5 separate regions of the Homo sapiens genome follow, and regions 2, 3, 4 and 5 are each linked to region 1. The links come from fine-mapping of genetic effects on plasma protein levels. A gene starts in region 1. Each other region holds a variant in brackets. All regions are shown on one strand. Distances are between the middles of the regions.

The links. PIP is the chance, under the fine-mapping model, that this variant and not a neighbour inherited with it causes the effect. Protein levels are from antibody-based Olink assays in UK Biobank. Linkage for the fine-mapping came from a reference panel and not from the study's own genotypes, which makes the PIPs less certain.
Region 2: its variant is fine-mapped to the plasma level of the CD200 protein (UK Biobank, PIP above 0.99).
Region 3: its variant is fine-mapped to the plasma level of the CD200 protein (UK Biobank, PIP 0.96).
Region 4: its variant is fine-mapped to the plasma level of the CD200 protein (UK Biobank, PIP above 0.99).
Region 5: its variant is fine-mapped to the plasma level of the CD200 protein (UK Biobank, PIP above 0.99). The variant lies in the coding sequence of CD200. If it changes the protein, the assay may bind it differently, which can mimic a change of level.

The regions. Positions count from the first base shown.
Region 1 is chr3:112,332,903-112,337,902 of GRCh38, reverse strand. It overlaps CD200 (CD200 molecule), which reads right to left and starts at 4,747. Exons shown (of 6, transcript NM_005944.7): 1 at 4,679-4,747. The coding sequence starts at 4,690. RefSeq lists enhancers at 1,910-2,669, 3,166-4,122, 4,123-5,000.
Region 2 is chr3:112,348,521-112,353,520 of GRCh38, reverse strand. It overlaps CD200 (CD200 molecule), which reads right to left. Exons shown (of 6, transcript NM_005944.7): 5 at 3,702-3,809. Among named protein-coding and RNA genes, the nearest start is that of CD200, 18 kb to the right of the region's middle. The variant G/T (reference allele first, on the strand shown) is at 2,603.
Region 3 is chr3:111,409,886-111,415,099 of GRCh38, reverse strand. The region is part of intron 2 of LOC105374039 (a long non-coding RNA gene); the gene reads right to left. Among named protein-coding and RNA genes, the nearest start is that of CD96, 130 kb to the left of the region's middle. The variant T/A (reference allele first, on the strand shown) is at 2,170.
Region 4 is chr3:112,371,511-112,376,724 of GRCh38, reverse strand. LOC105374041 (a long non-coding RNA gene) reads left to right here. Exons shown (of 4, transcript XR_924334.3): 4 at 625-884. Among named protein-coding and RNA genes, the nearest start is that of CD200, 41 kb to the right of the region's middle. The variant C/T (reference allele first, on the strand shown) is at 2,159.
Region 5 is chr3:112,342,521-112,347,520 of GRCh38, reverse strand. It overlaps CD200 (CD200 molecule), which reads right to left. Exons shown (of 6, transcript NM_005944.7): 3 at 2,233-2,559. Among named protein-coding and RNA genes, the nearest start is that of CD200, 12 kb to the right of the region's middle. The variant A/G (reference allele first, on the strand shown) is at 2,397.

The sequences.
Region 1 (5,000 bases):
TTTATATATATGGGAGGATATGCATAGGTTATATGCAAATATTACAGCATTTCATATAAGGGACTTGCACCATCCACCAACTGGTATCTGTGAGGGTCTTGGAACAAAGCCCCCATGGGTCCCAAGGGACAACTATACTTCTTTCATTTATTCTATTATTAATCATCTCTATTGAGTCTGACTTCATGCCAGGCACTATGGTAGGTACTTTGGAGACAATGGTGCATAAGGCAGATATAGTCCCTAACTTAGTTAAGTTTACTATCCAGCTTATGTATTTACACACTATTGACAGATTAATTTTCCTTAAATTCCTCTTTGTACAAGATGCCATCTTCTTCTATAGCCCCTAACTATCTAGAGAAAATTGTTCAAAGTTCTTAGCCTGTTTTCATTCTTGCAAATTCATTTCCATTGCCTTCCTATGTATCCCCTCCCTGCCAGCTAGCCTTTTCTACTTCTAAACGCACCACGCAATTTCCCGCCTTGGTATTTTTGCTTGAGCCATTCCTCCTACATGAAATGTCTTCCCCCTCACTTGTATTTATGTAAGGTCTTACTTTTATGAGCCTGATTACAGTCATCTTGCCATACAGATCCTCCTCTTCGGAAGCATTTTCTGCTTAGGTCTTTTGGAACTTTTAGTGCTCCAAGAAGATTCAAGCCTCTTCCTCCAGTGCCAAAGGGGTCCCATCTCCCTTTGTCTGCCATGCCACAGCTTCCAGATCTTGTCTGAACACACCCATCTGCTTTCCAGTTTGAGAGAAAATGACTACTTCCCAAATATACCCACCATATACCCCACACCTTGAGACACTGTTTCCAGCATGCTTACTACCTGTCAACACCCCTCACCCCCCGCCACTCCCCCAGCTATCAGTCTTTCATTCTCTCTTGTCAGTGAAAAAAATTATAGCACTAAAGCAGGCTTGACAGTTTTGAAACTACTCTTCTTTTTCAGACTGAGTTAAATTCCTGAGGTTGGGACATTGTCTGCTTGTTTCATTAGAAACAGTCTCTTATTTGGCTCTGTCTATTCTTTTATGGTATTTAGCAGTATGATCATAGTCTTCCATAAAGTAGTGGTCTCTTGGTGCCTGTCTCATTGCCCCCCAAGAACCTCAATATCCACTGAATCCTGTTGCTTTAGCGGGATGTCCTGACCACTTTTTCCTTAATGAACCCATCACGGGCATCCCTTTCTGAAGTTGTTTGTATGTTCTTATCGGCTCCTGTTTAGCCCCATCTGTTGCTACTATAATTTGAAGCTTATTTCTAGAATATTGGCCCATAATCACTTAAATGACCTTGCTTTAGGGTCAGGATCATTGCTAAAGGGTGGTGTTCTACCTGTGGGAATCCCATCCCCTCATTCTCGGTGTTTGCCTTAACTAAGCCCTATTTTTGCCATTCCTTTTAGATACAATGACTTCCCTGCTGGAATTCATTTTCCTTATCACTCCAAGCTGGGTCTTTCTGTTTGCCTTTCAATTTCTCTGGGATTTTTATTGTCTTGTGATGGCCTTCTTCCTGTGGGCTCAGGAGCAGCGGGTCGGGAATGGAGTTCTCAAGGATCTAAATCTCTCCTCCTTTACCTGCCACAAGGATTTCTCTTCCTTTTCCTGTCCAATGGGAGCCACTCAATTTTAATATCCTCCTACTCAATGGATTTGTTAATTTTAATTCCAGTCAATACATGCCCTTTTCTTTCCTTATGAAACAGCCACGACCTAAACTTAATGAGGGAAATTTCAAGAGGAAGTACCAAACCAATTCCAAATAACAGGTGTTTCACAAACATTAATCTTATATAATAAGCTTCATTTTTCCTCTAGCAAGAGAAGTTACTAACCAAGTCCCTTCATAGGTAGGGGTAGAAAATTACCTGGTAATCATTGATGGTGGTCTTTCCTAGGAGTGTAGCTGTAAGGAGAGGGCCCCCAATTGTCCTGGTCAGAGTCTGTGGTTTGAGATCAATGAGATGATAAAAATTAGAGCCAATATTGTCTCAGCTCTCTTGGGGCCAACTTGTACCCTGGAGGTGGTTGTGTGTGTTGAGCACCAGAGCTGTCATGGTCTGGGTGAAGACCCAAGATCATGTTAGAGACTGGCCTGCTGGAAAAGGGCTCTTCTTCAGCATTCACTCTAACTGCCAGAGACAAGGAGTCTCCATCACTATCTCCATCACAGTATTCCTGATGGATCTTTCAGGATAGATGTCCTGGAAGGAATGATGTCTCGCCGCCCTGTGGCCTATCCCAAGTGCTGCCACATACCTGAGTGTCTTCTTGTCTTCAGCTAGAGAGAACCAATCACTTAGACTCTCATCCTGGACCCCATGCAGTGGCATCATAGTACACAGTAATACTGATCTTTGTGATGTAAGTTGCTTTTTCCTTACATCTCTAAGGCTACAGAGAATTCAAGATTATATCATCTGAAGGTGCCATTAGGACAAATTATTCTTTGCAGATATATTTTATTATTCGATACCCAAGCATACCATAAGCATGCTATCCCTTCCTTGTGACTTCTCTTCCTGTCTTCATAGGTCTAAGACTAATAACATAGTCACTGCTCTTTGAGAAACCCAAGATGGTTCAGCTGCCTGAATACATACAGCCTACAAAGATCTGCTCACCCTGCCCATCCACTGCTGGGTATTATACTCACAAAGGCTTTGGTTTTGAAGTGAAAAAAAATATATAACTCGATAATTTTCTCAGTATTACTGAGACTGTTCCATCCTATCTAATTATCTAGGAAAGTCAGAAAAAATCAGGCCAAATATTTCCTCAGGCTCCATTGCCAGTGCCCACCCAACACATTTTGTTTTATTTTCAGCTAAGGCAATTGTGGAGACAGATACTGGCATTCCAATTCTATGTGATATTTTTTAAACCATTAGGCTTCTCTGACGTGGAAATCCAGGCTCTACCAGAGGCCATGATGAAGAATGCAGAATGGACAAGCTCTCATAGAGAAAATCTGTGTTTTAGGACAAGAGAGAAAGCAGATACATACCAAACCATATATTGTGGACTGGGAGCCAGCAATGTTAAGAAACAAAACACAGTGATTGAGGCAAAGGAAATCAGAAGGAAAGCCTTACTCTTAAATAGATACGTATTTTTATTTTACAGGTTTTTTTTTTCCTCGAGTCTGTGCAGAATAACTGAAAATACGACCAATCTGAAAACAACAGTATTTATATGTTTACAGGGAGGTGACCGGGGCTAAAACAAATACTAGATTTGTGAGCAAAAGAAATCATTTTACCTCTCTGAGACTCCGGAAAAGTAATAGTACCAATCTAATGGTTAAAAAGACTAAATGAAGTAGTATATAAAGCTCCTAGAATACTGCCAGTAGAAATAAGCACTAAATAAATGTTGCTCTTATCTCACATAGTTATTATGAGAATTAGGCAATTAAAGCACTTAGTATAGAGCCTAGGTTATAGTAAATGCCAATACGTGTTAGGTAGCTAAAAAAATTAATCGATCAAATCATATAGGGGGAACTACAGTCCTGAAAACAAAGAAGCCCACTTATAACCCTTGCCATGCAGTCCAGGGTTCACAAAAACCTGGGTCTTACCAGACAGCTGCCCACCTGGTAGCTATATTGCCCCTATTCATGCCTCTTCCTCAGCAAGTTTCTATGTCCAAATCCACATTACCCCACATGTAGTCACAAGGACTTGGAAATATCAGCCTTTCCGCCTGTTTATGTGTAAAACGAGGTAATAATTCATTTTTAGAAGGATAGTTACAAAGAAGATTAACAGCATCTAGCTTGCAGTAGACCGTAGCTCACAGACCACCATTCTCCTTTGTTAAGAAAGACAGTGAAATCATTGGCTATGTGGTCTTGCCAACAAACCATACATGAAAAAATTATCTTGAGGCATTCACTGTATTTGGATTCTTATACCAATACCATTGTATTTGGATTTCATATACCAATGGGATATATGAAAACCTTCTCCGTTTTTTGTCTTGTAAGCTGGTTCCGAATAAACAAAATGTCTGTTTCTCTAGATACCCGGGGTTAACCCTTCAAAGCATTATGATCACAGAGCATTTCAGCTCTCTCAAGTGTAGCTTCAGCTTTAACTGATCCTTCATGGCTTCCCCCAGGCAAGGGCTAGGAGGGAGAAAGGGGCTGCATAACAAAGAGGAGACGCAGGAGCTCTCCCGGAGAAAGCGAGCCTGGAAATCTGTATCTCCGCCGCAGCTTTTGGTGCCAATATGGAACCAATACAGCATTTCTCTTTCCCTTTTGGGGGCAGTTTAAAATAGGCTGTGCCTCCCCAGTTTTGGGAGCTGGAGCCAGTGAGCCGAGCCGAGCCTGCCCGGAGGATGCGCCAGCTTCGTCAGCGCGGATCAAGAGCCCCCGGAGCCCCGGCCTGGTGCATCTTTTTTTCAGGCAATTGGAATGGAGAATCTGGACGCCAGCAGCTGCCTGTAAACCACCCTTTGGAAGGCAAAATCCGTTTCTCAGCAAGAGAAAGCGCTTAGAGAAAAGCGCTGCCATCAACACCGCTGATCTAGTCCCCGGACCAGATTGTGGCAAGAGCCGAAGCTCCGCGCCTTCCACTCGCCGCCCGCCCCAGGGCCACCGGCTCAACATCGCCTGCCCTGCGCCCTCCTTCCCAAGCCCCGGCCCCGCTCACCAGCCTCTCCATCCTTGCTCCTGGAGGCGCGCGCGAGGTGGCTGACTGCGGATGTGCGCCTGGAGCTCTGCTAGGCAGGCGGGAGGAGCGTCACCTGTGCCCCTGCCGCACCTCCCGCCTCTTCCTCCTCGCTAGCCCCCTTCTCCCACTCCGTTTTCCCCACGCCCTCACAGGAGCGGAGGCTGTCTGTGTGGGGGGAATTAAATGATGTTTATATTCAGCTTTGTCTATTTTCAGACATTTTTCCCTTTTCAAAGGTGACCGCTGGGGAAACTGACAAAGTGTTTGGAAAAAAAAAATCATTTTTTTTTTTCCATTTTCC
Region 2 (5,000 bases), 16 kb before region 1:
TTGTCAGGAACCCATTCATAGGTTAGGTTATTGTGAAGAGAAGGAAATCAAGATAAATATACAGCTCATGCAGATGAAAAACATATTTCTACATGGATTAGCTAGTACTTGAAAAAAAAGTGAAGTTTGGCATATAAATTTTACATGATTGTCTAAATTTTCTATTGTTCTCCAAAGCAGCCTTGACTCAACCAAACCAAAGCAAAGCAAACCAAACCAAACAAAATAAAGCTGCCTAAAAATTAGGTGATTGTCTATGATGATCTGCCTCAAAGTGAAGTTTCTTTTATTGTTTCTGAGAAGCATGTAATTGTTGGTGGGTTGACTAATGAGAAATAAAAGATTATTCTCAACTCCAAATTTAACTACATTGTCATATATGTGAAAGGCACAACTTTATGAAATCACTGGGTTTTAATAGAAAGAAGTATTTCGAGATGGTGGAAAATTTCCCTAGGAAATTTTAATTCTTTCTCACTTACTGTTTTAAAGTGCTGGATTCATGAAAGAGAAAAGAATGCTCTTTGAAATCTTATTAGTCTTACTGTGGTAGTCTCCTGGGAAGTAACTGTGATAATTCTATCAGGAGTGGTGCAGAAAAATGGCCTGTGCTACTTCGCAGTTGGAAAAAACCAACGTCATGCTCTCTGGCATTATACAGGATCACAAGAAAAGTAATGGTCGTCTAACTTCTACGTAAAAATAACATCAGTAACTGTAAGTTTGCTTAGGCATTTGTGAGCAATGAGTAGTGATTATGACCTAAAATAAACTTCTGTTTTGGTCATTTACCCAACACAGAATTGACCTTACTTAACAGACTTACCTTACTTACCAGATTTTTATTATTGGCTACTGGACAGCTACATGAAGATAATTCTTTGTCTGCTCACACTCAATAAATTCAAAAACTTATTCGTCTGTCTCCTTTGCTTTTCTACAAACTCTAAACACTCTCTCTCTCTCTCTCTCTCTCTCTCAGTTCCACCTCTTCACTTTAGTGTTTCTGTTCACATCACCATTTTTGAGGTCACCAAGTTCAAAACCTTTGTATTATTTTGGACCAATCGTGTTTTCCTGCTCATTTGGAAATTTTATGTTTTCAGATGATGGAAAGAAAAAGAGAAAGAAAAGAAAAGTAAGGATGAAAACAACTGGAAGGCAAATGTGTAGGACTATTTCCCTTCCTCACAAAATATCAATCAGAATTTGTTAATGGTAGAAATAAAAAGTGTCACTATCTTCTATGATTTTCTGTCCTTTCTCTTTTCTTTGTCCCAACTTTTTGTATAACCTGAAGTTTGGTCTAAATGAACCAGTATTTTCTTAGCCCTGAGCATTTAAGCTTCAGCATAATTGACTCTTGGTTTTACTAGCTGTAAGTGTATGATGCCAAATTATCTGGCTGTTAAAATTTCTAAATCAGTTGTTGTAGTTTGGATACTTGATCCTGCAAACCTTATGTTGAAATCTGATCCCCGGTGTTAGAGGTGGGGCTTAATGGGAGGTGTTTAAGGGGGGAAGATCTCTTGGGAATTGATTAATGCCCTTGGTGTGAGTGAGTTCTCTCTCTGTTAGTTCCCATGAGAGCTGGTAAAACAGCCTGGCAGCACCCTCTTTTATTTTCCTGTCTCGCCATCTGATCTCTGCACACACTGGCTCCCCTTTTCCTTCTGCTATTAGTGGAGGTAGCTTGAGGCCCTCACCAGAAGCAGATGTTGGCACTGTGCTTGTATAGCCTTTAGAAACCAAATAAACCTCTTTTCTTTATGAATTACCCAGCCTCAGGTAACTTTTGTAAGCAACACAAATGGAAAAGAAATGAGTCAAAAATCCAGTCATTCAGAGGAATTAATGCAATTGGCCATATGTCATGAAGACATCATCAGTAAATGGCAATCCTGATGCGTACAGGAGTCAACATAGGTTCAGGTATTTATTTCATAAGTGAGGAAAAACTTGGGCAGAGAAATAAGCTGATTCTTTTTGCTTCAAGAATCGGATATTGGCATTGAATGACTATATTTCCCAGAAAATCCAAGACTTGCTTAATGAACAAGGGTAATTATTTTGCATGTCTCTTTCCAGTAGAATTTACCTCAGGCTTGAGTAGATTGCATTATAAAACTTTTGCCCAAGAGGGACTTTTAAAAATGAATTTAAATACTTTATACTTGTCTGCTTGCACTTTCCAAAAGAAAAGGGCATAGACAGTAAGCACAGATTAAGTGAATGCAACTGATAACAATAGCTCCTTTCAAGTCAAGACATTGGGGCATCAGTAATGACAGGAAGAACATTTGGCAGAGGTCAGGGCACCGGGGTTTAGTCCTAGCCTGCTCTTAAGAAGCTGTATAAACTTATGGAAGGAAGTCAGCTTTCCTCTCTGGGCTTCAGTTTCCTAATTGGAAAAGAAAAATTTCTGGATAAAGTAGAATCAAACAGACTTCTGTCTTTGATTTTATTCTGTGGAGCACTTATGAGTTCCACAGGCTTATAATTATGTGTAGTAAGATTAACTGATTTGTAATCTTCTCTCCTGGACAGAACAAATACCTTTACCTACTTTTGCAAAAGGGCCACTGACACTGAAGGCTTTTTG[G/T]GTGTTTTATAAATTCACAAGAATTAATCTGGAGGATTATGCAAAATAAAGTGGTCAAAAACTTGAAACATGAACAAAAACATAAAAATATAAACATAAAACTAAAAGGAAACATTTCTATAAAACATAAAATGAAAGGAAAAAATGAGTGAGATTTTTAATCAAAGTCTAAAATAGCTATCAAAGCCAACTATTTTTCTTTCCTGACCCCTATCCTTCAGTCATCTGAAATGGAGGAAACTCCCACATCACCCCTTCACCCTAGCAAATTTCCATTACACAAAACATAAACTGCAGCTTTGTATTCACTTCAATAAATTATGCATTGTCTACAGAAACCAAAGACATTTCATTCTTCCTCTCTATCTAGCTCACTGCTCTTGCTTTATAGTGTCTCTTGTTTTATAATTTCTCACAATATCTTAGACTGGCGTTTATGAGGTACTGAATTTACAATAGGAGAAAAGGAATTGAAAAAAAATCACCTTAAAAATTCTCTCTGTCCTCAATCAGTTCATTCAGTAAATTAACATTTATTCAGACCCTGGTATATATAAGATGCTGTGATAGTTGTGAAAGATAAAGAGAAATTTACAGTCTAGAAGGGCAGAATGGCATGACACAGTTACTGTAAGTATGGATCACTTGCATGATGCTGACAGTGTTTGAGGCATCGTGGGAGTATAACACAGAAAGTGCTACTTAATGAGTGATCATAATTGGACAATTGCAGCCTCTTAAATGGGCAGATGGCCTGTGAAGTGCTATAAAAAGAGAAGAGATTGTCCTTCTCATTAATGAGTGGAAAGGGCCTTGTGTGGGTGCCAGACTTCTTTCTTTGGTTCTATCACCATTGTTTGATTTCATTAGCTTTTAAGTCATCTTAGCAAACAAAAAGCAGAAATGTCCAATTTAATGTCCAATTGCAAGAAAATGCCCCGACGCATTTTAAAACAGTATCAACATTTCTGTATTTTGGAAACAACAGACAAAACACATTGTTGCCATTCCCTTATTTATATCTTCAAATGACTCACAAATTGTCATTAAAAATCAAATTTAATTTATGTCATTTTTTGAACTCCCTGTGACAACTCACCTCGGTCCTGATTCCGGTGACGTTTCCAGTACAGTAAGATTGAGATTAGGACGAGAAGAATTACCAGGGAAACAATGCTTAGCAATAGCGGAACTGAAAACCAATAGCCTATAGATATTGAAGAAAGAAAAAGGAAAATGACATCACATGAGGAAATTGTTGAGGCAAAAAGAGTTGAGCTTTTAGTTAAAATTATCCTTAAATACATACATATGTAGGTTTATACGTATGACTTCATATTATTTTAATAATATTTAGATATTAGTAATAGCTAACATGTTTTATCTGGCTACTGTGTAATAAGAGCTTTAAACTTATCGCATTTAATCCTCAAAACATCCCAAGAGTTATTATTTTCTAACAGATTTAAAGAAAACTGAGGCTTTGAGAATTTAACTGAGATCAAAATCAGAATAACAAATGGGATAGCCAAGGTTTGGTTGAAAGTCTGTTTGCCTCTAAAGCACATATTCTTTGCCATACTGTCTATTAAAAGAATACATGTTTATTGAGGAAATTGTGGAAAATGCAGAGAAGTACAAAGAAAGAAACATGAATCTCATGATTTCAACCCCCAGAGATAACTCATCTCAAAGTTTTTGGTAAATTTCTTCTTATCTATGTCTTTAATGCAACTCAGCCTAAATATCAGTTCCTCAGTGTCATGTTGCAATGCAAAGGCAAATGAGGAACTCCTTGATTTGGGAGTCTCTAGCATCTTCTCCATACCTCCATAATGGGATTCGTCACATCATTATTTAACTGAACACCTCAGACCTCAGACAGGGATTTGTTTGATTTCTATAGGTCCAGTGCTTGACATAATGCTTTGAGCATGGAAGTTTTTTGGTAAATGTTCACAGAATAAACAAACATTATACAAGTGGTATATAAACACTGTAAGTGATATAAGTCAAATCTGGCATTCTTGGAAAAAAAAAAGACATTCTTTTTTAGGTTCTTGTTTTTCCAGGAAATATACCCTTTGCCATGGCTGAATCTGAAGATCTCTTCACAAATATCCAAATCCAACACTGCAAGTCTTTTTGACCAAATTTACCTAAATATCCAATTTCTGATTAGTCTGGGTTTTCAGGGACTCCAAAGGCCACTGCAGTAAAGAGGTGGGTGTAGAAAGCTTTTCCAGTTTATTGCTCATAATTTCTCCAAAAAAGAGGAGTAATACTTTTTAGGAGGCTTATTACTGACTGCTTCATCAAGAGTCAGTGCTTCAAAACTACACAGAGAAAAGACGTGGCTATTATTGCTAAAACTTCTTGTCTTTATAATCTCTGCTCC
Region 3 (5,214 bases), 920 kb after region 1:
GAAAATTATCTACTGTAGTACTGGTACTACAACTTTATTTGACCCATCATCACAGCACAAAATTGCCCTTATTTCTCCTGAGATTCTAAAATGTGTTTCTTTTATATTAGGTAAGAAGTATCACTTATAAATAACAATTGGAAAATATAAAACATGAATCAAGATATAGGGAAAACTGTACCCTTTCTTAGTAAAGTCAGAGAAAGGAAGAAAATGGCAACAGAATTTTGGGATTTACTGCAAAGCTGGTCTGGTGCCAGCTCACACTTGAACAATTCTTTTTATTCACATCCAGAAAATGTTTTTAAATATGCAACTCTCTGGTTTATGCACATATGATTTTGATTACATTTCAGGCTACATAGCTACATAGCAATTAGTTTGTACAGATTGGCTGAAGTGCTGCACATCCCACTTGGAAATCCTTTAACTAGATTAGAAACCCCTGGGTCTGCACATTGAAAGTTATTTTCCAGAAGGAATCTACAGTAATTAGTGATTAGTAGGTTTTCTGCACCAGCTGTTTCACAGTCTGAGACAGTTAATCCATAAATGCATTAATTATATTAGATACGTAGGTAAGAAATAAAAAGTCTACTAAGTGGGAAAATTACTGAGCTATTCTAGTTTATTGCAAAAAAATAGTGTCAGTGATTAACTGTCTCTAAAGCATAATACAGACAAATTAGCTCTTGTGTTTGAGTCAATGAATTATAGATAAATACCATTGGCTGTGAATTTTCACAAGTATACGGATCTTTTTAACATATTTAGAGGAGTTTGAGATTTATAATTTAGATTTAGAGGAGTTTGAGACTTAGAGAGTTTGAGATTTGAAAATACATTTGTAAAACATAAAAATACAAAATGATGTATCGTTTTCTATCGATTAGATTATTTGGCCATTACCAGAGACCTAAAGAACTCTTCCAGATGTTAGTTGGCAATGCAGACTACCACATCATGTACCTCTGCATTTTTGTGATCTGAAAAATCTGGACTACTAGAAACAAATTTTGTTAATGCAATGAGTTCTAGTATTCTGATATCAATTATATATTTTCCCAACTCTCATAATAATTTTCAGACATTTTTAGTAACAGAACTTTAGAGGTTACCACTATTTATTATATAATATTTAGGGATATGAAACCAGTCTTAGTAATATTTCCCCTTTTCACGGAACTGAACATGGTTTCATATAATACTCAAGTTGTTCAATAGATGTTCCTAGAATTGAATCATCTACTTCAGAGTGTCAGTTGAGGAAATAGATGCATCCCACCAAAGACTTCTTTATATTCCCAAAGTACACAATCCCCTTTATTATATTTCATGAAGATAGTGAACACCAATCCACTCCCCAAATACTGAGAATCATCCCCCCAGAGAGAATCTCTGTAATATTACTCAGATCTATTGGAGGAGATAGAAAGGTGAATGCCACTGATGTGGTCCAACCATATCACTTACAAAAACGAGGCCATTTAGACTAAGAATATTAGGTAACTTAGGTTATATTTTGGAACTGATATTAAACTAAAAATTGTGTCATAGTCAGATGCATATTAAAATGTGTTAAATTGTGTGAAAAGTAACATCTGAGAGTACAGAGAATATTGGGATTCTTATTTCTAGGCAAAATTGAGTAATAGTGGCTAGATTTATTCTCTCATCAAACCAACTAAAAACATAGACAAAATACATGAAACATCTGTTAACAAACATCAGGTGGCACAGAGCAATGATCACTGAGAGAAGAAGGACAAATAGGTGAGCCATATAACTTCACTAGCTTACTTCCTGGAGAGAGTTTCTGGACTAAAGCACAGGGAGAGAGGGAAGCCACACAGAAACCAGCAAACTCATTGAGTGGAGAAGATGAAGATTGGTGTCTAGGTGATATGGTTTGGCTCTGTGTCCCCACCCAAATCTCATTTTGAATTGTAATCTGAATTATAATCCCCAAGTGTCAAGGGAGGGACCTGGTGGGAGGTGATTGGATCATGAGGGCAATTTCTCCATGCTGTTCTCATGATAATGAGGGAGTTCTCACAAGATCTGATGGTTTTATACGTGTTTGACAGTTGTTCCTGCGCGCTCACTCTCTCTCCTGCCACCTTGTGATGAAGATGCCTGCTTCCTCTTCTGTCATGATTGTAAGTTTCC[T/A]GAGGCCTCCCCAGCCATGTGCAAATGTGAGTCAATTAAAGCTTCCTTGGTTACAAATTACCCAGTCTTGGGTATTTCTTCACAGAAGTATGAGAATGGACTAATACACTGGATGAGTCAACATGGCTAGAGTTAAAAATTAAAATACCTGAGAGGAGAGATCTGCATAGAGAAAGAGTTCTGAGGATATGCCAAGGGTCCTGAGTATTAAGCAGCATATTTTTATGAAGATACTACCCATGACGGAGAAAAATCTACTCAAAAGGCTGAGTATAAGTAATCCCTGGAGCTCACACATGACTGGGAATAATTTATGTTCCCCTCAGCCAGAGTAAAAACCTTTATTTTTATTTGTTTATTTATCTCAATAGGTTTTGGGGGAACAGGTGGTGTTTGATTGCATTAATAAGTTCTTCAGTGGTGATTTCTGAGATTTTGGTGCACCCATCACCTAAGCAGTGTACACTGTACCCAATGTGTAATCTTTTATCCCTCACACCCCTCATACCCCTTCCCTTGAGTCCCCAGAGTCTATTGTATGATTCTTATGCCTTTGAGTCCACATAGCTTAGCTCCCACATATCAGTGAGAACAAACAATGTTTGGTTTTCCATTCCTGAGTTACTTCACTTAGAATAATGGTCTCCAATTCCATCCAGGTTGCTGCAAATGCCATTATATCATTCCTTTGTGACTGAGTAGTATTCCATGGTATATATATGCCACATTTTCTTTATCCACTTGATTGATGGGCATTTGGGTTGGTTCCACATTTTTGCAATTGCAAATTGTGCTGCTATAAACATGTGTGTGCAAGTATATTTTTCATATAATGACCTGTTTTCCTCTGGTTAGATACCCAGCAATGGGATTGCTGAATCAAATGGTAGATGCACATTTAGTTCTTTAAGGAATCTCCACATTGTTATCCATAGTGGTTGTAGTAGTTTACATTCCCACCAGCAGTGTAAAACTGTTCCCTTTTTACCACATCCATGCCAACATCTATTATTTTTTGAATATGGCCATTCTTGCAGGAGTGAGGTGGTATTGCATTGTGGTTTTGATTTGCATTTCCGTGATAATTAGTGATGCTGAGCATTTTTTTATATGTTTGTTGACCATTTGTATATCTTATTTTGGGAATTGTCTATTCATGTCCTTAGCCCACTTTTTGATAGAATTGTTTGATTTTTTTCTTGCTAATTTGTTTGAGTTCATTGTAGATTCTGGATATTAGTTCTTTGTCAGATGTATAGATTGTGAAGATTTTCTCCCACTCTGGTTTTTCTGTTTACTCTGCTGACTGTTCCTTTTGCTGTGTAGAAGCTTTCTAGTTTAATTAAGTCCCATCTATTTATATTCGTTTTTGTTGCATTTGCTTTTGGGTTCTTGGTCATGAAGTTTTTGCCTAAGCCAGTGTCTAGAAGGGTTTTTCCAATGTTATCTTCTAGAATTGTTATGGTTTCATGCTTTGATTTAGGTCCTTGATCCATATTGAGTTGATTTTTGTATAAGGTAAGAGACAAGGATCTAGTTTCATTCTCTACATGTGGCTTGCCAATTATCCCAGCACCATTTGTTGATTAGGGTGTCCTATCCCCACTTTCTGTTTTTGCTTGCTTTGCTGAAGATCAGCTGATTGTATTTGGGTTTATTTCTGGATTCCCTATTCTGTTGCATTGGTCTATTGCCTATTTTTATACCAGTACATTGCTGTTTTGGTGACTATGGTCTTATAGTTTAAAGTTGGGTAGTGTGATGCCTCCAGATTTGTTCTTTTTTCTTAGTCTTGTTTTGCTATGTGCACTCTTTTTTTGTTCCATATGAATTTTAGGATTGTTTTTCTCTAGTTCTCTGAAGAACGATGGTGGTGTTTTGATGAGAATTGCATTGAATTTGTAGACTGCTTTTGACAGTATGGTCATTTTCACAATACTGATTCTGTCCATCCATGAGCATGGATGTGTTTCTAATTGTGTTGTATATAAGTTCTTTGAGCAGTGTTTTGTAGTTTTCCTTGTACAGGTCTTTCACCTCCTTGGTTAGATATATTTCTAAGTATATTATTTTTTGCAGCTATTGTAAGAAAGGTTGAGTTCTTGAATTGATTCTGAGCTTGGTTGCTGTCGGTGTATAGCAGTGTTGCTGACTTGTATACATTAATTTTGTATTCTAAAACACTGTTGAATTTTTTGTCAGTTCTAGGAGCTTTTTGTATGACTCTTTAGAGTTTTCTAGGTATACAATTACATCATCAGCAAAGAGTGACAGTTCAGCTTTCTCTTCACCAATTTGGATACCCCTTATTTCTTTCTCTTGTAAGATTGCTCTGGCTAGGACTTCCAGTACTATGTTGAATAGATGTGGTTAAAGTGGGCATCCTTGTCTTGTTCCAGTTCTCAGGGGAAATACTTTCATTTTTTTCCCATTCAGTATAATGTTGGCTGTGGGTGTGTCATAGATGGCTTTATTACATTAAGGTATGTCCCTTCTATGCTGATTTTGCTGAGGGTTTTAATCATAAAAGGATGCTGGATTTTGTTGAACGCTTTTCTGCATTTATTGAGATGACTATGTGATTTTTGTTTTTAATTCTTTTTATGTGGTATATCACATTTATTGACTTGTGTATGTTAAACCATCCCTGCATACCTGATATGAAACCCATTTGATTATCATGGATTGTCTTTGTGATATGCTGTTGGATTTGGTTAGGTAGTATTTTGTTGAGAATTTTTGTACCTATACTCATCAGGGATATTGGTCTGTAGTTTTTTTTAATATCCTTTCCTCATTTTGGTATTAGGGTGATACTGGCTTTATAGAATAATTTGAGGAGAATTCCTTCTTTCTCTTTCTTTTGAAATAGTGTCAATAGGATTAGTAGCAATTTTTCTTTGAATGTCTGATAGAATTCAACTGTGATTCTGTCTGGTCCTGGACCTTTTTTTTTTTTTTTTTTTTTTTTTTGTTAAGTTTTTAATTACCATTTTAATTTCACTGCTTGTTATTGGTCCGTTCAGAGTTTCTATTTCTTCTTGA
Region 4 (5,214 bases), 39 kb before region 1:
AGAGGCAGACCACCCTCAATCTGAGTGGGTGCAATCTAATCAGCTGCCAGAAAGACTAGAATAAAGCAGGCAGAAGAAGGTGGGAGGAGCCGACTTGCTGAGTCTTCCGGTCTTTATCTTTCTCCCGTGCTGGATGCTTCCTGCCCTTGAATATCAGACACCAAGTTCTAAAGCTTTTGGACTGTGAGACTTATACCGGTGGTTTGTCAAGGGCTCTTGGGCCTTTGGCCACAGACTGAAGGCTGCACTGTCAGCTTCCCTACTTTTGAGGTTTTTGGACTTGGACTGACTTCCCTGCTCCTCAGCTTGCAGACAGCCTACTGTGGGACTTCAACTTGTGATCGCATGAGTCAATACTTGTTAATAAACTCCCCTTCATATATACATCTATCCTATTAGTCCTGTCCCTCTAGTGAACCCTGTGCCCAAATGGATGATGACACCATCCCCTGTTGATATGGACAGGAAACAGGGAAACACTAGGTAGAAGAGGGTGGTTCCCTGGCAAAGGCCCCTATCTCAAGCCTGAAGTCCTGTGGTCCTAAATGGGGACAGGCATTTCTGTTTTCATGTGAAGAAGTTGCCTTTTGGCCCACCATGCCCTCTATCCTGTATTCATATAAGCCCCAGGCTCCAGAAGCAGATGAGAAGATGAGGAGACAAGCAGATGGATTGCAAAATGGTGCAATAGAGAAAGAGAAAAGAAGAGGAATGTCTGAACACTGAGAGATTTCCAGCTGGGGTGGTCAGAGAAGGGTTCAGCCACAAGATGGCCAAAATCCAGGGAAGATCTTCTTCCCACTCCATTCCCTGCTTCTTGTTCCCCATCCATCCCACTGAGAGCCACCTCTACCACTCAATAAAACCTCTCATTCATCCTTCAAGCCCGTGTGTGACCTGATTTTTCCAAGATGCTGGGCAAGAGCTCAGGACACAGAAAGCTGTTGAACTGCCCCTCTGCCCTTGCAGAAAGGCAGAGAGTCCACTGAGCTGATTAACACCCAAGCCATTCGTGGATGGCAAGGCTAAAAGGGCACATTGTAACACACTCCACTTAGGCTCCTTCACCTGCCTGTCTGTGTGCTCCCCCTCCCCTAAGGGGTTTGAGGAGTGCTGGTGACTGAACAGGCGAGCCACACCCATCATATGTCCTTCGAGGGGGATCAGGGAACTCTCCTGTTTCACTGTAATAGAGAAAACTGGAGGAGGACCAGTTATGGGACTGGGAAAGACCAGGAGTTCAGCTTTGGACCTGTTCAGTTTGAGTTGCCTGTAAGTCAGCCAGTGGAGATGTTTTGTAGACAGCTGGATACATATATCTGAGCTCCAAGGAGTTAGAAGTAGTAATTTTGGACTTGTGAGTGTATAGATCATAACTGAAGACATGGCATGGATGAGATCACACAGGGAAAGAGTACACTATGAGCAAACAAGACAGCCTCTATCCAAGTTTTCGAGAATTGCAAAATTTAAAAATTAAGTACAGGAGGTTGGGCTGGAAAGATGAGAAAATCAAGGGCACATCATATTACAGATGACAATGAATTTCAAGAAAGAGTCTAATGTGAGACATGTACAGAAGAGGTAAAGAAAAATCATTAAACTTAGTGATATGGAGGTCACTAGAGTCCTTCTAGAAAGCAAAAAATTGCTTAGAATTTCAAGGGGACCGTGGAGTTGTCCCCTTATGTATGCCCCTGAGCCCAGGTTAAGAACTCCTACCTGTGGATTCCAAACAGTCATCTAACAGGGTAACCTAACTGGATTCAAAGTATTAATTTTCTACTCTCTCAATGGCAAGAAAAATTGCTTAGCTAACTTTAATGTCATTTGAAACTATGTGATTTTGTGTCCCAGGCAGGCTAGAGGTTCAAAGAAAGAGGTTATATTAATATAAATAAGGCAGCTTCTTTATTTGTCCATCGGAAAGTCTGTTCGTCTGCAATCATAGAAAGCATTAGATAAATCAGCTGCAGGGAGATAGCTGTACAGATGCGAAGCTCTGCCTGATGATTCCAGCCTATTTTCCTGGCATAATCAACAGTGACTTATTCCTTCCCTGGAAACTAATCTTCCTGTTTGGACCAATTGTATTATTCTTAACCACACCGTAGGTTATGGGCAACAGCATGAGTAAAATCTGGGAATTCCTGAGATG[C/T]GCTTCCAAAAAACTATGGTCGGGAATATGTAAATCTGAATAAATAAGAGCATGAGTTTATAAAAATTTCCAGTTCCACCCAATAAACTCTCTTCCTCCCTTTTTTTAAGAGATAAGATCTCGCCCTGTCACCAGCCTCTCTCCCTTTTGACCATTGAACCACTGAAACCCAACTCCAATTACTGAAGCCAACTATTTCATAACTCAGTCTCTCACACTCTTGAGCAGATTCAATAATAGGAAAGTTTATCTTTCACTTTTTCTGTTTTGGTTCTGGTCCTGCTCTCTGGATCTTTGTGTTAGTTTCCTATGGCTGCCATAACAAATGACCACAAATATGGTGGCTGAAAATGATAGAAATTTATTCTCTCACAGTTCTAAAAGCAAGGTGTTTGCAGAACTACATTCCATCCAAAGGCTCTAGGGGCAGTCTGTTCTTACCTCCTCCAGCTTTTGATGGCTCCAGATGTTCCTCAGCGTGTGGCCACATCACTCTAATTTTTGCTTCTGTGGTCACATTGCCTTCTCCTGTCCTCTGTATGTCTCGTATAAGGACACTTTTTACTGGATTTAGGGCATGCCCAGATAATCCAGAATGATCTCATGTCTAGACTCTTAAATTATATCTGCACAGACTCACTTATGAAATAATATCATATTCATAGGTTCTGGGGATTAGGATGTAGACCTATATTTGGGGGGATACAATTCAACCCACTACCACCTCCAATGAACACATCTATTTTCTCTTTCATAGAACTGCTTTTTCAATGGTTGAAGAAGCTGTTAGATTTCCTCTTGTTCATATTAAGGAAAAAATGGCTGATGTTACTGAAGCTCTACAATGTTCCAGGCATGTGCCAAAATAATATTACAATGTTAGCGTCTATTTTTACTTCCTATTCATTACCATTTCCCTTTTGTGCGTTATAACAGGTGGGGTCTTTTTGCTCACTGCCTCAGGAAAAGGATGTGGCGAGGGAAAAAGAATAGTAACTTATTCTTATTTTACAAAATGCTAAAATCTCAAGCTTTTGGGTAAAGTGAATCAGCACACGTGTGGGGAGAGAGAAGGAACAGAGCAGAGACAGGGAGACGATCTATGGATCCCATGAAAGAGGGTGCATGGGTAGATGTGATTGTGCTCAAACTGTCAAATAGGATGCTGCAAGGAGCCTGGGGCAAGTCACAACAGAAGAATTACAATTTGGCTGGTGTGGTGGCTCACGCCTGTATTCCCAGCACTTTGGGAGGCCGAGGTGGGCGGATCACCTGAGGTCAAGAGTTTGAGACCAGCCTGGCCAACATGGTGAAACCCTGTCTCTACCAAAAAAAAAAAAAAAATTACCTGGGTGTGTTGGTGGGCACCCGTAATCCCAGTTACTTGGGAGGCTGAGGTAGGAGAATTGCTTGAACCCGGGAGGTGGAGGTTGAGGTGAGCCAAGATTGTGCCACTACACTCCAGCCTGGGAAACAGAGCAAGACTCCATCAAAAAAAAAAAAAAAGAAAGAAAAGAAAAGAAAAAAAGAATTACAGTTCAAAGCTCGGTTTTGGAGTGAAGCCATACACATTTTCAGAAAAACGAAATTATTTCCTTTTGAGAAACAGCTTTTGGCTTACAATTGAGCCCTGGAAGTCCTTGATCATTGGGATACCAAGTTACTTTTTGCCCATAATTATGAACTGTGTGATTGATCCACCCAGGCATAAAGTCGGGCGTTCCCAATGACAGTATATCATCAAACAGAATTAGTATATATAAACCTAGGCTTGAGAAAGGCCTGAAGATACTGGTCCTCAGGATTAAATTAAGTTGTATGGGCAACTGACCATTCTTTCGGTGTATGTAGTCCTGTTGCATAGTCACCTGTCTCTCAACTATTTCAACTGCCTCAGTGGGAATTCCCATGAACAGCTGAATAAGGAACACAACAATCTAGACTGATTTATGAAGCAATGAAATTCAATATTCCACCTCATACTCTTTCAGAATTTTTGCTTCCTTTCCTGACAGCTCTGAATGAAACCACCCATGAAGACCTTTCAGCCAAAACCAAAGTTGCATCATTATCTGTGTGTGTAATCTTGAGTAAAATGTATTTCTTCATCTGTAAAATATAGGGGTCAGACATGATAGTTCTGAGGCCTCTTAGCTCAATGATTTTACTATTATCTGATGGGGGCCCATATACGATTCAATGTGGAAAAAAATAACAGGAAATCCACTATTTGGATAGTGGGTACACTAGAAGTCCAATCCCCAATAGTACATAATATATCTGTGTATCAAACATGCATATGTACCCCTGAGTATAAAATATAATAAAATAAAAATAAATAAATATATAACAAAAAATAAAATAAACAAAAAATAAAATAAAACAAAAATTACAGAAACTGAATATATCACCCAATTCCTCTGTCCCCTTTGTGCTATGAAACAATGGCAAAACCAAGAAATTTCCTTGTTTATTCCTTTGATATAGCCTGCCATTGACCAGAATGAAATATATCAAATTTCTGTCTTTAGAATAAACCTGAGTCTACGGAGTCAGATATCTGACTGAGGGAAATATTCACCAATTCAATTGAATTCATCTAACATTAGATCGCACATCCTTTTAGTGTCAGGGTCAAAATGCAAAGGCACACTTCCTATATTGGAACAGCCTTCTGTGGTGTGAACCCAGCCTATGTTTCCAGTACATTGCATGTTCCTTTCTCTGCTGCCCACCCTAACGTCCAGCCTAATGCTTCCCTTCCTTAGCCTCACTTGGTGTTCCACACCTCCTGCCTCTGCATATGCTGATCTCTCTGCCTGGAATATTTGTCATCCTGTAGTCCAACATTGTCACAGTTTATATGACGACTTCCCACAGCATCTCTAGAGAAAGCATCTTGTCTTATTTATTTTATATCAATAGAGCCAAGCAGAATACCTTTCTCATAATTGATGCTCAATAAATATTAGTTGGAATGAATGCTCAACCATGTGATTAAGCCAGTAGTTCTTACCTCCTGAGTCTATCTCAGGATAGAAGCAGTTCTCTTTTCA
Region 5 (5,000 bases), 9.6 kb before region 1:
GCACCTGGTCTGAGTCCTGCAGTCTCCTCAGAGAGATGAAGGAAATATGCTTATAGAAAGATAATGGAGGCTAGAAAGATAGCATGGCATATCCTACCCAAACTGGGGACTTTCCAGTTCCTCTTGTGTCTAATTTTCTGATCTGCAGGATGGAGACTGGCCTAGTACAAACCTGTGATGAGAAAGACCCTTTCTGTAATTTGTCTGTAGCAGAATTTGTCAGATGGACATAGAGTATTGAGAAGTCAGATGATACTTTTCTCTCCCAAACAGTCCTAATTATTCTGTTCTCTTCCAGGGGCAATGCAGCATCTCTGCCTTCTTCTGGGTATTCCTCTTAAATGGCTTGACAATAACCACCAACCAGCACTGCCATACATGTGTCCTGTACCTATCAGAGGCACTAGGGCAGTTTTGGAACAGAGAGCCCATAGAAAGGCTACTGCTTAGAGATAGCCATTTTCTTCTTGGAGCTGGACCAGTGAATTAGACGCATGGAGGAGAGCTGGAAAATCCCTTTTTGGAAGAGCTACACAAAACCAAAATTTGGAATTCGTAGCTAATAACCATAAAAATTAAGAAATGACTGTTGGAAGAGCACTGGAAATCACCTGATTAAGTTAAGAAAAACTAACTAGCTCATGAGAAAATTATTTTCAGGCCAGCTGTAGCCTGTACCCTTTTGAAAATCCCCTGACTAGTGAGTTCATTTTTGTTGGAATATAGAATTTTTCTTTTCTAAGCAGATGTAAACTTGTCTTTCTGTGGTTGGCTTTGGAGCCCACAAGATAATTAAATGGCAGTGCTAACTGAAAGCCTGGGCTGTGCTTATAGGTTCAAGAGGCAGGTAGAAGACACTGGGTTGGGGAAGTAGGGCTATGGAACTGTGGCTCTGGCTAAGATTACTAATGTCTGTGAGCGCTGGAAGAAGGGAAATAGAAATGAAAAAACATGAATATGGTTGATGGGCCAGACTGAGTGTTGAGGTCCTATGATGTATCAAAGAATGGCTTACATGAAAGTTATAAGGTGTGGATGGAAAAGGTCAGTGTGGAAGAGAACAGAATTACTAGCTTTAAAGCTCAGAGACATCTGCTTTTCAGGAAAAAAAAATACAAAAGTCTATGAGTGAAGGAAGGAGACTAAGAGAAAGAAAGGTGAGGAAAAGAGGAAGAGAATAAAAAGGAACAGAAATGAGAAAAATATGACACAAGAAAAAAAGAAAAATTAGGAGGAAGGAAAGAAGAAAGGAAGGCAGAGAGGGAGGAAAGGAAGGAAGGAGACAGGGAGGAGAAACAGAAAAAGAGAGAATGAAAGAAGTGGAAATCAAGAAAGAAACAACATAAGATTCTACAGAGAGGACTCATTATAGGCAAAATAAGTAAAAGAAATTTCTTTTGGCATTGTCCTATCTCCCTTGCATTCTCATCTACTAAGCCTTTTCTTCCCTGTGGGCAATATTATTGGCATGAGTAAACTCTCACCTTAATATTCCTAATAACCATAAGTTTGTCCTCTACTCCCTAAAACTACTGCCGTGTGTGCCATGCTCCAAAGTAATCTCTTATTCTCACTTCGTAACCTTTCATCTCAGCTGTGTGTCAGTTAAGAAGAATTTCATCAAACTAAGCCTCTTGGATTTTAAAAGAATGCTCTTGCCCAGTTATATCTTTAGTTGGCATCATTTCAGGTATGAAAAGGCTCTGCTCTATGTGCCCTTATCAATCCTGAAAGAGCTATCTCCCCAAGCAAAATGAGAAGGACAATCATAACTGGCTCAAGGCTAGTCCAATCTGGCTCTGTCCTTAGATCCAAAAAGTTGAAGTTGTAAGTGACCCTAGAAATGATCTATTTCACACTTATTGTCCAGACAATGAAACTCCAGTGGAGAGTGGATAGGACCCTTCTAGGGTCGCATGATTGCTAGTGGCAAAGCCAGGTCTGAATCATATCACTGCTTATGGAGAACTTGTTGCCCTCACCATTGTCCTCAAATTTCTCCTGTTGACAGCAGGATCCCTCAGAGAAAAGATAGCTCCAGCCAAAGAACTCAGTGTAGCCCCATGAACTCTCCAAATAATCATAAACACAGCTATAGTAGACAAGAAAGGCTATCTTCTCATGACCCTTTCTGTGGTTAAAATCCTGAAAAACTGGGCACTACGGCTATATTCCAAACATTCTTGCAAATAGTATTTCCAGACACAGACAATGATTCTCAGAGATTCTCACCATAGACGGTGAGGCAGGCCGTTCCTGAGATCTTCCCAAAACCAAAGGTATTGAAGAGACACATGTAACACCCTTCATCCTCCAGGGTGATATTCCAGAAGGTGATGGTTGAGTTTTGGAGTCCCAGCTGGGTAATGTTTATCTTGTCCTTATAGGCAGGCTGG[A/G]TCACCACCCCATGGTTCTCGCTGAAGGTGACCATGTTTTCTGGGCTTACAGCTTTCTTTTTCTGCCATGTCACAATGAGGGCTTCCTGGGCATTTTGCAGAGAGCATTTTAAGGAAGCAGGTGTGTACAGCTGCTCTCTTTCATCCTGGGTCACCACTTGCACTATGGAATCATAAAAGAACATTTATATTTAAAGATTGTAACACACATACACTTTTTCCTGATTATAAATAAAATGTATATTCAATGTCAAATATAGAAAAGAAAGAGAAAATGCAAAAAAGAAAACATTTATTTACATTCCTACGTGATGCCAGAGAAATATATAGGTTCAAATATGTTTGTTCAATCTTTAAAGAATAGTAGCAGAGTAGAAAAACAAGAGAGCAACTCTCAGTTACAAGAAATTGTGAATGATCTGTGTAAGCTGCGAAGTAGGTACAATGAGATTGAAGATGTAAACTGCCAGGTAGGATAGCAGCTTCACCAATCTTGTCCATGCTTGGAGAAGTAGAAGCAAAGAGCAGGAAAAGGCCAAAGGATAACAGGCAGAGTGACCACTGTAAGTAAAGAAGATGGAGCAGCCCTATGCATTCCACACAAACACACACACATACACAATCTACAAAGGAAGCAGGTGGAACAGAGGTGTCTGCCTCCAGGAAGCAAGAGTGTATATAGGAACATAGGTAAAGAGATTTATGGGACAATGTTCTGGAGGATCTTGAAGCTTTGGCACACAAATAATAATTTACACACCCTCTGCTTTCACTAAATGCTATGGTGGTAATTTCTTCCCTTCCTCAATATTAGCAACTCATACCATCATACATTATTTGATGGAAAATCTCAACATAAAAACAAATAGCCAAACTTTTGAGAAAGCCAATACAATGAAAGAGAAATAATAAACTTTACAAACCCAATAACTCATACAAAATGAATAAAGATATCATAAGACAATAAATACTTTGACATGAATACATGTGATGATATAAGTGTAATAAAAGCATAATAAAAGCATTATGAATAGTAGAAATTAGAGATATAGAAAATGAGGAATATAAAATTGCAACAGATAGGCTGACTTAGCAAAATAGATGCTACTGAAGAGTAAATTAGTAAAAAGTAAGAACAGGCCATGAAATTATTCTAGAATGTAGCACAAAGAGATAATGATATGGAAGGGATTAAGGAAAAATTCAATAAGTAGACTTAAATGTTCCAAAATCAGTTCAGTAAGACTTCTAAAAGGAGAGAAAAAAAAGAATGGAAGACAAAACCACTGTAAGAAGGGAAAAAGTATTTTTCAAAATGATAAAAGGAACAATCTAAAATCAGATCTATTATAGTAATCATAAACCTTTATGCACCTAACAACATAACTCCGAAATATATAAAGCAAAACTAATAGAATTACAAAGAAAAAATTTAAATTCACAATCATACCGAGAACCTTCAATTTAATATATTTAAACAATTGTTAAAGGAAAAAAAGTTAAATAGGAAATTTGAAAAACTACCAGGTACAGTGGCTGATGCCTGTAATCCTGGTGCTTTGGCAAGTCAAAGTAGAAGACTCACTTGAGGCCAGGAGTTCAAGATCAGCGTGGGCAAGAGATGAGACCCTTATCTCTACAAGAAATGTAAAAATTAGCCAGCCGTAGCGTCATGTACTTGTAGTCCTGGCTACTCAGGAGCATAGGACAGGAAGATTGCTTAAGGCCAGGAGTTCAAGGATGCAGTGAGCAATGATTGCAGCACTGTACTCCAGCCTGGGTGACAAGGTAAGTCCATGTCACAAAGAAAAGAAAATTTGAAAAACAATATATATTTATATATATACTTTAGGTATTTAATATTATCAATGTTTTATATGTTTATATTATATACACTATATACTTTATATGTATGTAGATCTCTCTCTCTGTGTGTGTATAAATATAAATTTCTTCCCTTCTCCAATATTAGCAACTCATACTATGATAGATTATTTGATGGAAAATCTCAACATAATAACAAATAGCCAAACTTTTGAGAAAGTCAATACAATGAAAGAGAAATAATAAACTTTACAAACCCAATAACTCATACTAAATGAATAAAGATATCATAAGACGCACACACACACAGACACACACACTTTACTCAAAGAAAGGATGTATAATCTTTTCAAAACACACATAAAACCTTCCTCCAAATTGAACTCAAAATAGGCTACAAAAAAGTTGCTACCCTACGTATGGCCTTGAACACCGTTCATAATACAATAAAATTAGAAATTTACATACTTCTTTTAAGTCTTAGGTACACCAGAAAGCATAGAAAAAATCATAAATTATTATAACTGAATGACAATGAGAACATAATATGTTAAAAATCTATAGACATGGGTAAGACATGCCTGGTGCAGTGGCTCACGCCTGTAATCCCAGCACTTTGGGAGGCCGAGGCGAGTGGATGACTTGAGGTCAGGAGTTTGAGACCAACCTGGCCAACAAAGTGAAACCCTGTTTCTACTAAAAATACAAAAATTAGCCAGGCGTGGTGGTGGGCACCTGTAATCCCAGCTACTCAGGAGGCTGAGGCAGGAGAATTGCTTG